Homo sapiens: one gene and its partner. The protein of the gene in region 2 interacts with the protein of the main gene of each other region in a biochemical or structural test. Each region holds a gene or a part of one and is shown on either strand. Other genes may lie near its edges.

The links. Proteins that work in one complex are often made in the same cells at the same time.
Region 1: of the proteins of USP29 (region 2) and AIFM2, one has a biochemical effect on the other in vitro, tested with the Homo sapiens proteins (one study listed by BioGRID).

The regions. Positions count from the first base shown.
Region 1 is NC_000010.11:70,129,805-70,137,229, forward strand, and holds the start of AIFM2 (ferroptosis suppressor protein 1), read right to left. Parts: upstream 3,022-7,425; 5' UTR 2,930-3,021; intron 1-2,929. UniProt on the Homo sapiens protein: A NAD(P)H-dependent oxidoreductase that acts as a key inhibitor of ferroptosis.
Region 2 is NC_000019.10:57,122,984-57,130,004, forward strand, and holds part of USP29 (ubiquitin carboxyl-terminal hydrolase 29), read left to right. Parts: intron 1-1,055; 5' UTR 1,056-1,156; intron 1,157-5,676; 5' UTR 5,677-5,692; coding exon 5,693-7,021.

The sequences.
Region 1 (7,425 bases), on a different chromosome or scaffold from region 2:
TATACAATTTACCACTTAAGATGTAAGTTCACAGTGAGCTATGATTGCACCACTGCACTCCAGCCTAGATGAGACCCCATCTTTTAAAAAAAAAAAATGAGATGTAGGCTGACTCACACCTCTAATCCCAACACTTTGGGAGGCCAATGCAGGCAGATTGCTTGAGCTCCGGAGTTCCAGACCAGCCTGGGCAATATGGTGAAACCCCATCTCTACAAAAAATACAAAAATTAGCCAGGCATGGTGGCACATGCCTGTGGTCCCTGATATCAGGAGGCTGAGGTGGGAGGATCGCTTGAGCCTAGGAGGTCGAGGTTGCAGTGAGGCATGATCATGCCACTGCACTCTAGCCTGGGCGCCAGAGCAAGACTCTGTCTCAAAAAAAAATTTTTTTTAATTTAAATTTCAAAAAAAGATGTAAGTTCAGTGGGTTTTAGTGTATTCACCAGGTTGTGCAACCATCACAACTATCTAATTCCAGAACACTTCCATCACCCCCAAAATAAATCCTGTACCCCACCTACCCTAGCCCTGGGTAGCTACTAATGTTCTTTCTGTCTCTATAGATTTGTCTGTTCTAGACAATTCATGTAGATGGAATTATACACTATGTGGCTTTTTGTTTGCGACGTCTTCCACTGATCATCATGTTTTCAAGGTTCATCCGAGTTGTAGCATGTTATCAGTGCTTCATTCCTTTTCCTGGCTGAAAAACAGTCCATTACTGGTGTATGAATAGACCACATTTTGTTTATCCACTCATCAGCTGACGGGCACTTGGGTTGTTTCCACCTTTTGACTATGTGAATAACGCCACTATGAACATTTGTGTACAGGTTTTTGTGTGAACCAGTCTTCAGTCCTCTTTAGTATATATTTAGGTATGGAATTGCTGGGTCATATGGTAACTTGAAGTTTAACTTTTTGAGGAACTGCTAAATCCACCATCTGATTTTGAACTGAACACCAAAGCCCCAGTGGGAATCACAGAGAATCTTAACTATGTCTGTCTAGGTTCAAGAATGTTAGCTTAAAAGAAGGCCTAAGAGAGCGGAACAAACCCTGATTGTCCAGGAACCCCTCAGTAACTTTACCTTTGCTCCCTGCCACAACACACATACACACAGACACACACACACACAATCTGATTTACACAAAAATTTGCTCAGTCAATCCTGTTTTCTCTGCCAAGAGCATCCACCCTGATCTCAAGGGTATTATTCCACAATAAGCAGCCCATAGGACTACTGAAAAACCAGGAAGTTACATTTATGCCAAAGCTGTTCAGAGGTTGTGCCTCAGAAGACACACAGCAGGAACCGTGTGGGCTCTGATCAAAGCAAGAATGTCATCCCAGAGTTGCTCCAGTATTGCTTCACAAATATTACAAATAAAACACGATGCTTTTTGAGTCGTCATGGCTCACACAAAGGGTAGGTTTCAACATCAGCCTCTGGAGAGCCACATTCCCAGAGTGGCCGTCCCGGATAAGAAGGCCACTACAGCACGACTCACAGCACCATGGAGGTTTCCTCCACCTGCGGGACACAGCAGGATGGAGACGGTTGGGCGGCCTCCCTTCCTGGGACACTCCATGGCCAGCCCCTCAGGGACTACTTGAAGAACAGAACCCCCAAAAGACCAGTTTCTGAAAAGGGACTCAAAGTCTAAGGGAGGCAGCCTCCTTTTATCCCCAGGGGAGGGCAGCTCTGGGGCAGACAGGTTCATCTGGATGTCATATTCACTCCCGCACAGAAAACCTAGGCCAAGCAATTTGTCCATCCTCCTCAGAGCCAGTTTTGTGGTCCCCATGGTCTGCCCACCACCTGTACCTGGACGCTGGCTTCATTTGGCCACCAGACAAAAGTCAGGCTGGCCCTGGAGTCCACCGGCCTGCCCAGCCCATCACTTCTGGGCTAGGTAGTGCTAAGCCTGCCCAGCCCACCCTGGCTGGGGCTCAGTGCCCTCTTCTTGGTGACACACTGTGCTCCTTGGAGAACTCCTCTCTAGGTGCTGGGGTGAGGGCAGGTGTGATCTGAGATCCCGGGGCTCTCTGGCAGGTGCATGCACGCACACTGGAACCTGATACAGGCTTTTGAACACAGGTGCACAGTCCAGAAACCTGCAAGTCCCATCCCAAACTATATCTGACTCTCTGCCCTATGCCTGTCCTCCTACAGGATCATCAGCCCCCAAGAGACCTCACCACTCCCCATCCTCACCTTAAATTCCAGGGTCAAAAAGACTCTCCTTGTAGGGAAAGGTAGGGTGTGTTGATCAGGTGGTGTTGGAAGGAGAGCCCCAATATAGGCCACTAATTCAGTTCCAGGTGGACTGCACGCGTCCCATCAGAGTTAGTTTACTCACCGCTGGTCTTTGTCCCTGCAGCACCCAGGGCTTCGGGAAGGGAGAAGCAGACTTCCTAGTGCTGCACCCCCCAGCTCCCCCGAGCCTATGGGCACTGGGTTGACTCCAGTTTCTTTCCTCTTAGAGACTGAGGTTTCTCCCTTTCCTCTCACACCTGCTTCTGTCCGGACCGGCCGCTTCTACCCAGCGGACCCTCGGACGGTCCTCGCAAGATCCGGGTTACACCCGCCCCGTGTTCCCTCTTCCCCGGTTCGCCCTTCCCGGCCTAAGCCCATCTTCCTTAGGAAAACTTAGCAGGGATTTAGGGGCCAAACCAGGAGGGTGGAGTTTTCTTTGCCCTCGGCCAGGAGCACATCTCCCTGTTGCGTTTTTTGGGGGAGACAGAGAGGGGCGGGCCTGAGTCGAGTATCCCTCTCCTCGCAGCGCCACAACTGCGCGCACCGACCTCCCCACGCCAGACGCGGCGTGAGCCAGGCCTCTAATCCGCTCGCCCCTCTTCCGGGTCCCGGTCCCGCCCGGGGCGCCCGGGGTCTCGAGAGCCCGCCTGGCGGCGCGATCTCACCTGTCGGCCGCGCCCGCGCGCTCTCGCTCCGGCTCCCGCTCCCGCTCCCGCTCCCGCTTGGTCGTCTTCCCGAGTTACTGACCCGAGGCGCTCCCGGGCGGGGCGTGACTCAGCACTCGTGCTGGTCCCCGACCCCGCGGCAACGCCCCGGCCAGGCCCCGGAAACGGTCCTGGCACGCTGGGGCTGGTCTCCGAACGGCCCGCCGGACTAACCTTGACCCTGAGCGAACGGCCTTGAACTTTGAAACAAATGCTCCCATGGCCAGATGTCGCCTCTCCGGCTCCTGCCAGCACCCGCGCCCCAGTCCTGCCGAGCCATTCAGACTTGGTTTAAAGTGTCCTTTCAGCATACTTTAAAGCAAAAAAGAGAGAGAGAGAGAGAGAGAGAGAGAGAGAGAGAGAGAGAGAGAGAGAGAGAGAGAGAAGGAAGGAAGGAAAACAAGCATCCCCCTGTTCCTCTGATTTTCTCGAGGACACCTTTAAAGCCACTGGAACCTTGGAGAGTGGGGTTCCCCTCACACGTTGGGCGCACTGCCAACATCCTTCCTTCAGACATACACATAATAATTCCGCAAACCCTGTTGAGCTCCTACATTTGCCAGGCACTGTGCTAGGCGTTGGAGGGATAACTTGGAGAGAAAACTGACAAGGTTCCTGCTTTCACGGAGGCGACAGTCTGGGAAAAGACAGATATTAAACACACCACCAAAAAATACATGTATAGAGAAAACAAAAACCATGTATCACCAACTGCAGTAAGAAAGATTGGGCATGGCCAGGCACGGTGGCTCATGCCTACAGTCCCAGCACTTAGGGAGGCCAAGGCGGGAGGATCGTTTGAGCCCAGGAGTTGGAGACCAGCCTGGGCAACATAGCGAGACCTACAAAAATTAGCCGGGCTTGTTGGTGCACACCTGTAGTCCCAGCTTCTCGGGAAGCTGAGGTGGGAGGATTGCTTGAGCCCAGGAGTTTGAGGCTACAGTGAACCATGATCATTCCACTGCACTCCAGCCTAGGTGACTGTGAGATTCTGTCTCAAAAAAAAAATAATAATAATAATAATAATAAATGAAATGAAATGAAAAAATAAAAAAGAAAGACTGAGGGCAAAGGAAGGGTGCAAATACTTCTCTCCAAGGATGAGAAAGAGGTAGATTTAGGTAAAGAGGAAGGAAGTGTGGTCTGGATGTGCAAAGACCCACAGGCAGGACAATGACCTGGAAGGCAGTGTATTGCCAGCTCAAATCAGACCAAGCTAACTCAGCGAAAGATAAGCCATCTCCATCTACTTACTGCAAATATTAGCACCTACTTTAAGAGTTGTGGATAAGGGCCAGGCACGGTGGCTCACGTCTGTAATCCGAGCACTTTGGGAGGCCGAGGTGGGTGGATCACCTGAGGTCAGGAGTTCGAGACCAGCCTGGCAAACATGGTAAAACACTGTCTCTACAAAAAATTAGCCTGGCATGGTGGCACATGCCTGTAGTCCCAACTACTCAGGAGGCTGAGGCAGGAGATTCACTTGAACCAGGAAGGCAGAGGTTGCAGTGAGCGGAGGTCATGCCATTGCACTCCAGCCTGGGCAACAAGAGCGAAACTCCATCTCTAAAAAAAGAAAAAAAGAGTTGTGGAAAGGCCTCAATGAGATCATTTTTATAAAGTGTTTTAACATGGTGCCTGGCACACAGTAGCAATGAATACACAGCAGCCATTTATTATAGATATTTTATATTGCAGATTATTTTGCCCAAGGCAACCAGAATGATTTATTTTTGATGAAAAATCCTACTCATCGTCTTAGAAAAACAATAAGCTAATATTTATTGATCACGAACTAAGTGCTTTGAATGACTTCTCAAGTTTTTTTGTTTGTTTTTGTTTTTTTCACAAAGGTCCTGCAAGGTAAGTTTTATTAATCTCCATTTTGCAGATAAGGAAATTTAGGCTCCTAGAGGCTAAAGAATTTAGGCAAGGTCCCTCAGCTAGTAAAGCAAGGGGGTGGGCCTACAATGGAGGTCTGAACCATGACCCCTTTTTGGGGGGTAGGGGGACGAATCTGGCTCTGTCGCTTAGGCTGGAGTGCAGTGGCATGCTCTCGGCTCACTGAAGCCTCCACCTTCCAGGCTCAAGCGATTCTCATGCCTCAGCCTCCCAAGCAGCTGGAATTACAGGCACCTGCCACCACACCCGGCTATAGTAGAAACGGGGTTTCACCATGTTGGCCAGGCTAGTCTCAAACTCCTGGCCTCAAGTGATCTGCCCACCTCGGCCTCCCAAAGTGCTGGGATTACAGGTGTGAGCCACTGAGCCCAGCCTGAACCATGACCTTAAAGCCAGGAAACCCCTCAGCAAGCATCATCCCTAAGGAGCCAGAGGGCACTGCTCAGGCAAAGCAGAATCTCAGTTGTGGGGAATTTACTGGGCATGTACCCAGTAAGATGTGACACAGAGAGGTGAACAGAGAGGCTACAGCCTGCCCACTGCACGGAATCAGCCCTGAGGCTTGGGATGGTCATGGAAGGCTTTGTGTAGAAGGTAGGCGTGCAAGGATGAAGGGGATGCCAGCTGGCAGGATGCAAGGAAAGGACTCCAGAAAGAGCAGGACAAAGATAAAGCTGGAAGAGAGGCGAGAGAGGTGTGAGGTGGCCCAACACTGGGCTCAGGTGTGCCAGGGCTGGTGTGGCCCATCTCTAAGGACCTGTCCCAAACCATGAAAAACTTTTTTTTTTTCCTTAAGACCTGCTACAAAGCAACAAACCATGAAAATCAAGGAATTTTTCTGATTATCACTCAATACTTTCTTGGCAACCAGAAGACACCTCCATCCAGGAGAGGGGACATGGTCTCATGCAACCCCTCCAGGTAGCTCACTGCACACCACTCCTCTGGTCCCACTCAGCAGTGCCCATAGCTTTGGAACTGAAAATCAGGGCTCGCTGCCTAAAAAAGGGGTTTTGTCTCTGAAATTCCAAGTGCCAGAGGTAGCAGGAAAGTGCGGTGGTTAGGATCCTGAAAAAGTGGCAAGTTCATTCCATGGAACTTTGACGGTTAGTGGGGAGAGCAGGCAGATTGTCTAACATGACGGAATCTAAGAGGAGGAAGCGTTGCTGGCTCTCTGCTGTAATGAGCTCAGCCAGGCCTGTGGGTACTTCCTTACAGACAACAGGTGGCTTTTCTGCTGGCTCCCAGGGCTGGAGGAGCTCCAAGGTACTGGGTCATCTCAGGAGCCCAGAGAAACAGAGGCAGTATGCCCACTCGAAGAACAGGCAACTCTTAGATCTGAAGAGCCTGGTAAATGTTCTCCTTTTCCATACGTAGTTCCAACGAAATTTGTAAGCTTCAAAGAAGAGAGGAATATCCTCGTTTCTTCCTCTCTCCCCCAACACATGATTTGGTATAGTGTTCCCAGCTAGGGAGAGGCTATATTAATGAAGGTAAGTTCTGCTGCAATGACCAATAGATTCCAAATGTAATGGCTCAAATACAACAGAAGTGCACTTCTTGCTAGGGCATGAGTTCCAGGCCAGTGGACTGGTTTATGAGGCTGTCTCCCTTCACACAGGCATCCAGGGACCAGGCTAACAGGACATGGCAAGTGAGTGCCACTCATGGTCCCAAATTAGATCTTTGTTTTTCTTTTTTAGAAACAGGGTCTCCCTCTGTCACCCAGGCTGGAGTGCAGTGGCATGATCATAGCTCACTGCAGCCTCGAACTCCCATGCTCAAGCCATCCTCCTGCCTCAGCCTCCCAAGTAGCTGGGACCACAGGTGTGCACCACCATACCTGGCTAATTTGTGTGTGTGTGTGTGTGTGTGTGTGTGTGTGTGTGTGTGTTTGAAGAAACAGGGTCTTGCTATGTTGCCTAGGCTGGTCTCAAACTCCTGGGTTCAAGCCTCCCAAAGTGCTGGGATTACATGCGTGAGATACAGCACCTGGTCTCAAATTAGGGAGCTCATCAGTTCTACCTCCTGTGTTGTCACTTGATCTCACCACCACCAGTCCTGCCTCAGCCATCTTCTCTCTCACCAAGCCACTGTAACTGGTCCCTGGGCCTGTCTTGCACTTTTCCAATTTTCTCTCCACAAGGAAGCTGTGCCACACTTCCTTGTCCCAGCTCCTGCCACTCTCAGCCTGGAACACTCTGTTTCCAGTCCACTTGGTAAACTCTGAACTCTCTTTTCATGGTTCAGAGCCTGAATCACCTTGAAGCCTTACCTAACCCACCCCTTCTGGGCCCCCAGACATACTCTTCCCTGGACAGAGCTTCCCTGCTTATTGCACTAATGGGCTGACACATCAGTCTCCCCAGAGTAGCCTGTGGGTGCCTTGATGCCTGTATTAGTCCGTTTTCACGCTGCTGATAAAGACATACCTGAGACTGGGATGAAAAAGAGAATTAATGGACTTACAGTTCCACATGGCTAGGGAGGCCTCCCAATCATGGCGGAAGGCAAGGAGGAGCAGATCACGTCTTACATGGATGGCGGCAAGCAAA
Region 2 (7,021 bases):
GGACACATTAATTATAATCATGGAAGATTTTCTGCTTCCCACATGGTTTGCTGGGTTTGGCATAGTATAGCTCATGCCCTACATTGAAGAAATGTGGGCACCCATCAACAGCAGCCATTTCTGATTACACATCCCTGTTTCTTTAGCTGAGTGACTCCTAAAAGTCCCTTAATGTATTAATAATGCATTTGGACCTCAGTTTTCTTACTATGTTAAATGTAATAAAATTGAATATCATATGGTCACTTGCAGAATTAAATGGTATTAAGGCATGTAAATCATATAGAGTGATGTAGTACAACAAACAATAAACCTGTAATAAAAGTCACTAAACTCCCTTCCCTCCCATGATGGAGCCTTAATTTTCTCTATATGAGGCATCCCTGTAGTTTAATATATTCTTAGAATTAGCAATAGGAATATGATGTCAACAATTAATTTTGAGCCATTTTAGCCCAATGACTTATCCTAAGAAGTCGCTATTATTGTTGCCATCCCGTTTTCACTTATACGAAAGTAAGACTCAGGAGGGTTGAGTTTCAGCCTTAGTGTTAGAAAAGCAGTAAGCGGTGAAGCCGGGCTTGGAATCCTGGAAGTTGGAATGTACAATGTGTGATCTCGATGCATCCTCTCTGTAGTGCCTCTTTGTAACAAGAAAAAAATAAAGATACTTAAAGTTCTAGGTAAGCAAAGTCAGAACTAGTCTTTAAGTTAGAGACCCATAAAGTATAAGGTTTCTCAAACAACAAATGTTGTTAGAAGGTCTTGTTGTGGCAGAGTTCCAAGAAAACCAATGAATGTGAAGTCAGTTGATATATTAATCTAATCTGTGTAATTGGGGAGGGGCACTTTTAGGAATGCATTTAGAGATAATCCCATTAACACAGGAGGTTTTCTCCCAGATTAAATTAACGTAAACGACTTTGGAGGAAGGTTGGTTTTCCCAGTTTCTAAGATATAATGCAATAAATTAACATGAAAGATGGTTGGGACTATGTGCAGACTTTTTAAATAAACCTCAGTTTCAGGACTCTGACCTTTTTGTTTCTTCCTAGTAACAGCCGTGGCAGTCAGAGCTCTGCCTGCAGTGTGACCATGGACAGCTCTCCAAAGCTTAAACTTCAGTAAATTGACTCAAGTTTCTTCGGAAAGAACTGTGAGTAGCAAAGGGCAACTTTTTCTGTTGGTTTCATTGGGATTTCACTGCTTTTCCTGAAATTGGAATGTTGGAAGGAAGTAGGCATTCCTCACTGCCTGGGGAGAAATGGGCAAATGAGTAAGGGGAGGGAGCAAATTCAGAGAGATATTTTTTATTTTTTCTGAAACCTGTTTGTGTTTTGAGATGTCTTTCCCTTCATGTTTTTTTTTTTTTCACTCTTCATATTTCCCTTTCTCTGTCTCTCTCCCCACCTCGGTTTTGCTAATTAGCTAGCACAACAACTCGCCATCTTACTCCTTTTCCTTACTCCCTGTTTTTTGTGGGGTTTTTTTTTTGGTTTTCTTTTTTGTTTTTTTTTTGTTTTTGTTTTTGTTTTTTGTTTTTCAGACAGAGCCTTGCTGTGTCTCCCCAGCTGGAGTGCAGTGGCGAGATCTCTGTTCACTGCAACCTCCACCTCCAGGGTTCAAGCGATTCTCCTGCCTCAGCCTCCCCAGTATCTGGCACTATAGGTGCCTGCCACCATGCCCGGCTAATTTTTGTATTTTTAGTAGAGACCAGGTTTCACCATGTTGGCCAGGCTAGTCTCAAACTCCTGACCTCAGGTGATCCACCTGCCTCAGCCTCCCAAAGTGCTGGGATTACAGGTGTGAGCCACCGTGCCCAGACAGAACTTCTTTATTTTTGCCTTAATTTTGTTATTTAACCAGTAGTCATTCAGGAGCATCATATAGAGTGATGTAGTACAACAAACAATAAACCTGTAATAAAAGTCACTAAACTCCCTTTCCTCCCATGATGGAGCCTTAATTTTCTCCATATGAGGTAGTTTAATATATTCCTAGGATTAGCAATAGGAATATGATGTCGACAATTAATTTTGAGCTGTTTTAGCCCAATGACTTATCCTAAGAAGTCGTTATTATTGTTGCAGTCCCATTTTCACTTATGTGAAAGTAAGACTCAGGAGGGTTGAGTTTCAGCCTTAGTGTTACAAAAGCAGTAAGTGGTGAAGCCAGGCTTTCCATGTAGTTGTGTGGTTTTTAGTGAGTTTCTTAATCCTGAGTTATAATTGGATTGCACTGTGGTCTGAGAGCTTGTTTGTTATGATTTCCGTTCTTTTGCATTTGCTGAGGAGTGTTTTACTTCGAATTATGTGGTCAATTTTAAAATAAGTGCTATGTGGTGATGATAATATTGATCTATCTAATATTAACAGGGGGGTGTTAAAGTCTCCCACTATTATTGTGTGGGAGTCTAAGCCTCTTTGTAGGTCTCTAAGAACTTGCTTTATGAATCTGGATGCTCCTGTATTGGGTGCATATATATTTAAGATAGTTAGCTATTCTTGTTGCATTGATCCCTTTACCATTATGTAATGCCCTCTTTGTCTTTTTTGATCTTTGTTGGTTTAACATCTGTTTTATCAGAGACTAGGATTGCAACCCATCCTTTTTTTTGCTTTCCATTTGCTTGGCAAATATTCCTCCATCCCTTTATTTTGAGCCTATGTATGTCTTTGCACATGAGATAGGTCTCCTGAATATAGCACATCAATGGGTCTTGACTCTTTATCCAATTTGCCAGTCTGTATCTTTTAATTGGGGGCATTTAGCCCATTTACATTTAAGGTTAATGTTGTTACGTGTGAATTTGATCCCATCATCATGATGCTAGCTGGTTATTTTGCACATTAGTTGATGCAGTTTCTTCTGTGTCATTGGTCTTTATATTTTGGTGTGTTTTTGCAGTGGCTGGTACCGGCTTTTCCTTTCCATATTTAGTGCTTCCTCCAGGAGCTCTTGTAAGGTAGGCCTGGTGGTGACAAAATCCCTCAGCATTTGCTTGTCTGTAAAGGATTGTATTTTTTCTTCGCTTATGAAGCTTAGTTTGGCTGGATATGAAATTCAGGGTTGAAAATTCCTTAAGAACGTTGAATATTGGCCCCCACTGTCTTCTGGCTTGTAGGGTTTCTGGAGCAATCCACTATTAATCTGATGGGCTTCCCTTTGTGGGTAACCCGACCTTTCTCTCTGGCTGCCCTTAACATTTTTTTCCTTTGTTTCAACCTTGGAGAATCTGACGATTATGTGTCTTGGGGTTGCTCTTCTCGAGGAATATCTTTGTGGTATTCTCTGCATTTCCTGAATTTGAATGTTGGCCTGTCGTTCTAGGTTGGGGAAGTTCTCCTGGATAATATCCCAAAGTGTGTTTTCCAACTTGATTCCATTCTCCCCGTCACTTTCAGGTATACCAATCAATCGTAGGTTTGGTCTTTTCACATAGTCCCATGTTTCTTGGAGCCTTTGTTCATTCCTTTTCATTCTTTTTTCTCTAATCTTGTCTTCACGCCTTATTTCAGTAAGTTGATCTTCAATCTCTGATGTCCTTTATTCTGCTTGATTGATTTGGCTATTGATACTTGTGTATGCTTCACGAAGTTCTCATGCTGTGTTTTTCAGCTCCATCAGGTCATTTATGTTCCTCTCTAAACTGGTTATTCTAGTTAGCAATTCCTGTAGCCTTTTATCAAGGTTCTTAGCTTCCTTGCATTGGGTTAGAACATGCTCCTTTAGCTCAGAGGAGTTTGTTATTACCCACCTTCTGAAGCCTAGTTCTATCAATTCATCAATCTCATTCTCTGTCCAGTTTTGTGTCCTTGCTGAACAGGAGTTGCGATCATTTGGAGAAGAGACATTCTGTTTTTTGGATTTTTCAGCGTTGTTGTGCTGGTTTTTCCTCATCTTTGTGGATTTATCTACCTTTGATCTTTGAGGCTGTTGATCTTTGGATGGGGTTATTGTGTGGGGGTCTTTTTTGTTGATGTTGATGTTGTTGCTTTCTGTTAGTTTTTCTTCTAGCAGTCAGGCCCCTCTTCTGCAGGTCTGCTGCAGTTTGCTGGAGGTCCACTCCAGACCCTTTTCACCTGGGTATCCCCAGCGGAGGCTGCAGAGCTGCAGAACAGCAAAGAGTGCTGCCTGTTCCTTCCTCTGGAAGATTTGTCCCAGAGGGGCACCAGCCTGATGCCAGCCAGAGCTCTCCTGCATGAGGTGTCTCTCAACCCCTGTTGGGAGTTCTTTCCCAGTTAGAAGGCACGGGGGTCAGGGACCCACTTGAGGAGGCAGCCTGTCCCTTAGCAGAGCTGTTGTGCTGTGCTGGGAAAATCCCTCTTATCAGGATCAGCTGCTCTCTTCAGAGCCAGCAGGCAGAAAAGATTAAATCTGCTGAAGCTGTGTGCCCACAGCCACCCCTTCCCCCAGGTGCTCTGTCCCAGGGAGATGGGAATTTTATCTGTAAGCCCCTGACTGGGACTGTTACCCTTTCTTCAGAGATGCCCTGACCAGTGAGGAGGAATCTAGAGAAGCAGTCTGGCCACAGCTGCTTTGCCATGCTGTGGTGAACTTTGCCCAGTCCAAACCTCCCACCCTCCTTAGCACTGTCCAGGGAAAACTCTACTAACGCCTCATTAATCACGGATGCGCCTCCCCCAACCAAGTTCCATCATTCCAGGTCAACTTCAGACTGCTGCACTGGCAGTGAGAATTTCAAGCCAGTGGTTCTTAGCTTGCTGGGCTCCATGGGAGTGGGACCTGCTGAGTGAGATCACTTGGCCCCCTGGCTTCAGCCCCCTTTCCAGGGGAGTGAATGGTTCTGTCTCACTGGGGTTTCAGGCACCACTGGTGTACAAAAAAAAATCAACTCTTGCAACTAGCTCGGTGTCTCCCCGAACAGCTGGCTAGTTTTGTGCTTGAAACCCAGGGCCCTGGTGGTGTAGGCACACAAGGGAATCTCCTGATCTGCAGATTGCAAAAACTGTGGGAAAAGCGTAGTAACCGGGCGAGTAGCATAGTTCTTCACGGCTTCCCTTGGCTGGGGGAGGGAGGTCCCTGGCTCCTTGCATTTCCCAGGTGAGGCAATGCCCCACCCTGCTTCTGCTCGCCCTCCATGGGTTGCACCCACTGCCTAACTAGTCCCGATGTGATGAACTGGGTACCTCAGTTGGAAATGCAGAAATCGCCCACCTTCTGCATTGGTCTCGCTGGGAGCTGCAGAGCGGAGCTGTTCCTATTTGGCCATCTTGGCCCCGCCCCTTTTTTAATTTTAAAAAATTTTATGTAGCGATGAGGTCTCCCTATTTTGCCATGCTGGTTTTGAACTCCTGGGCTCAAGTGATCCTTCCACTTGGCCTCCCAGAGTGCTAAGATTACAGGCGTGAGCCACCATGCCCAACCAAATTTGTATTTTCTCGATGAGCAGTGATGCTGAGCACCTGTTCATATCTCTGTTGGCCATTTGTATATTCTTTCTCGCCTAACAGCTCCCTTGAAAATGCGTGTGCCTCAGTCTATGTCTTCTGGAGAACTGGCACAGCTTCAGAATATTAGCACCCCAAAAGAGTATTTTACTTAGAGCATAAGAAGACTAAAAATAAATCATTATTATATGTGGATGAGGTTTTTCATAAAATATAACTGTTAATATATTCTTGGTTAAAATGCATGTGTGCTTTTCTTCTTTAGGTTACATAAAGAAAGGATGATATCTCTAAAGGTATGTGGATTCATCCAAATTTGGAGCCAGAAGACTGGGATGACTAAGCTGAAAGAAGCTCTCATTGAAACAGTGCAAAGACAAAAGGAAATTAAACTGGTGGTCACTTTCAAATCTGGAAAATTTATAAGAATTTTTCAGCTGAGCAACAACATTAGAAGTGTGGTCCTTAGACATTGTAAAAAAAGACAAAGTCACCTGCGTTTAACTTTGAAAAACAACGTGTTCTTGTTTATTGACAAATTATCCTACAGAGATGCTAAACAGTTGAATATGTTCCTGGACATAATCCACCAAAACAAATCTCAGCAACCCATGAAATCTGATGATGATTGGAGTGTGTTTGAAAGCAGGAATATGCTGAAGGAAATTGACAAAACTTCATTTTACAGCATTTGTAACAAGCCAAGTTATCAGAAGATGCCTTTGTTTATGTCAAAATCACCAACACATGTGAAAAAGGGGATATTAGAAAATCAAGGTGGGAAGGGGCAAAACACACTATCATCTGATGTACAGACAAATGAGGACATTCTGAAGGAAGATAACCCTGTACCAAACAAGAAATATAAGACAGATTCCTTGAAATATATACAAAGCAATAGGAAGAACCCATCAAGTTTAGAGGATTTAGAAAAAGATAGAGATTTGAAACTCGGGCCTTCATTCAATACCAACTGTAATGGAAATCCTAACCTAGATGAGACTGTTCTTGCAACCCAGACTCTCAATGCCAAAAATGGTTTGACATCTCCATTGGAACCAGAGCACAGCCAGGGTGACCCAAGATGCAACAAAGCCCAGGTGCCTCTTGACTCTCATTCACAGCAACTGCAGCAGGGGTTCCCCAATTTGGGAAACACCTGTTACATGAATGCAGTTTTACAATCGCTATTTGCAATTCCATCTTTTGCTGATGACTTACTCACTCAAGGTGTCCCATGGGAATATATTCCCTTTGAGGCTCTTATTATGACCTTGACCCAGCTGCTTGCTTTGAAAGATTTCTGTAGTACAAAGATCAAGAGAGAATTACTTGGGAATGTTAAAAAAGTCATTTCAGCAGTTGCAGAAATATTTTCTGGCAACATGCAGAATGATGCTCATGAGTTTTTAGGTCAGTGTTTAGACCAGCTGAAAGAAGACATGGAAAAATTAAATGCCACTTTGAATACTGGGAAAGAATGTGGGGATGAAAATTCATCTCCACAAATGCATGTTGGTAGTGCTGCCACCAAAGTGTTTGTTTGCCCTGTTGTTGCTAATTTTGAGTTTGAATTGCAGCTCTCCCTTATTTGTAAAGCTTGTGGTCAT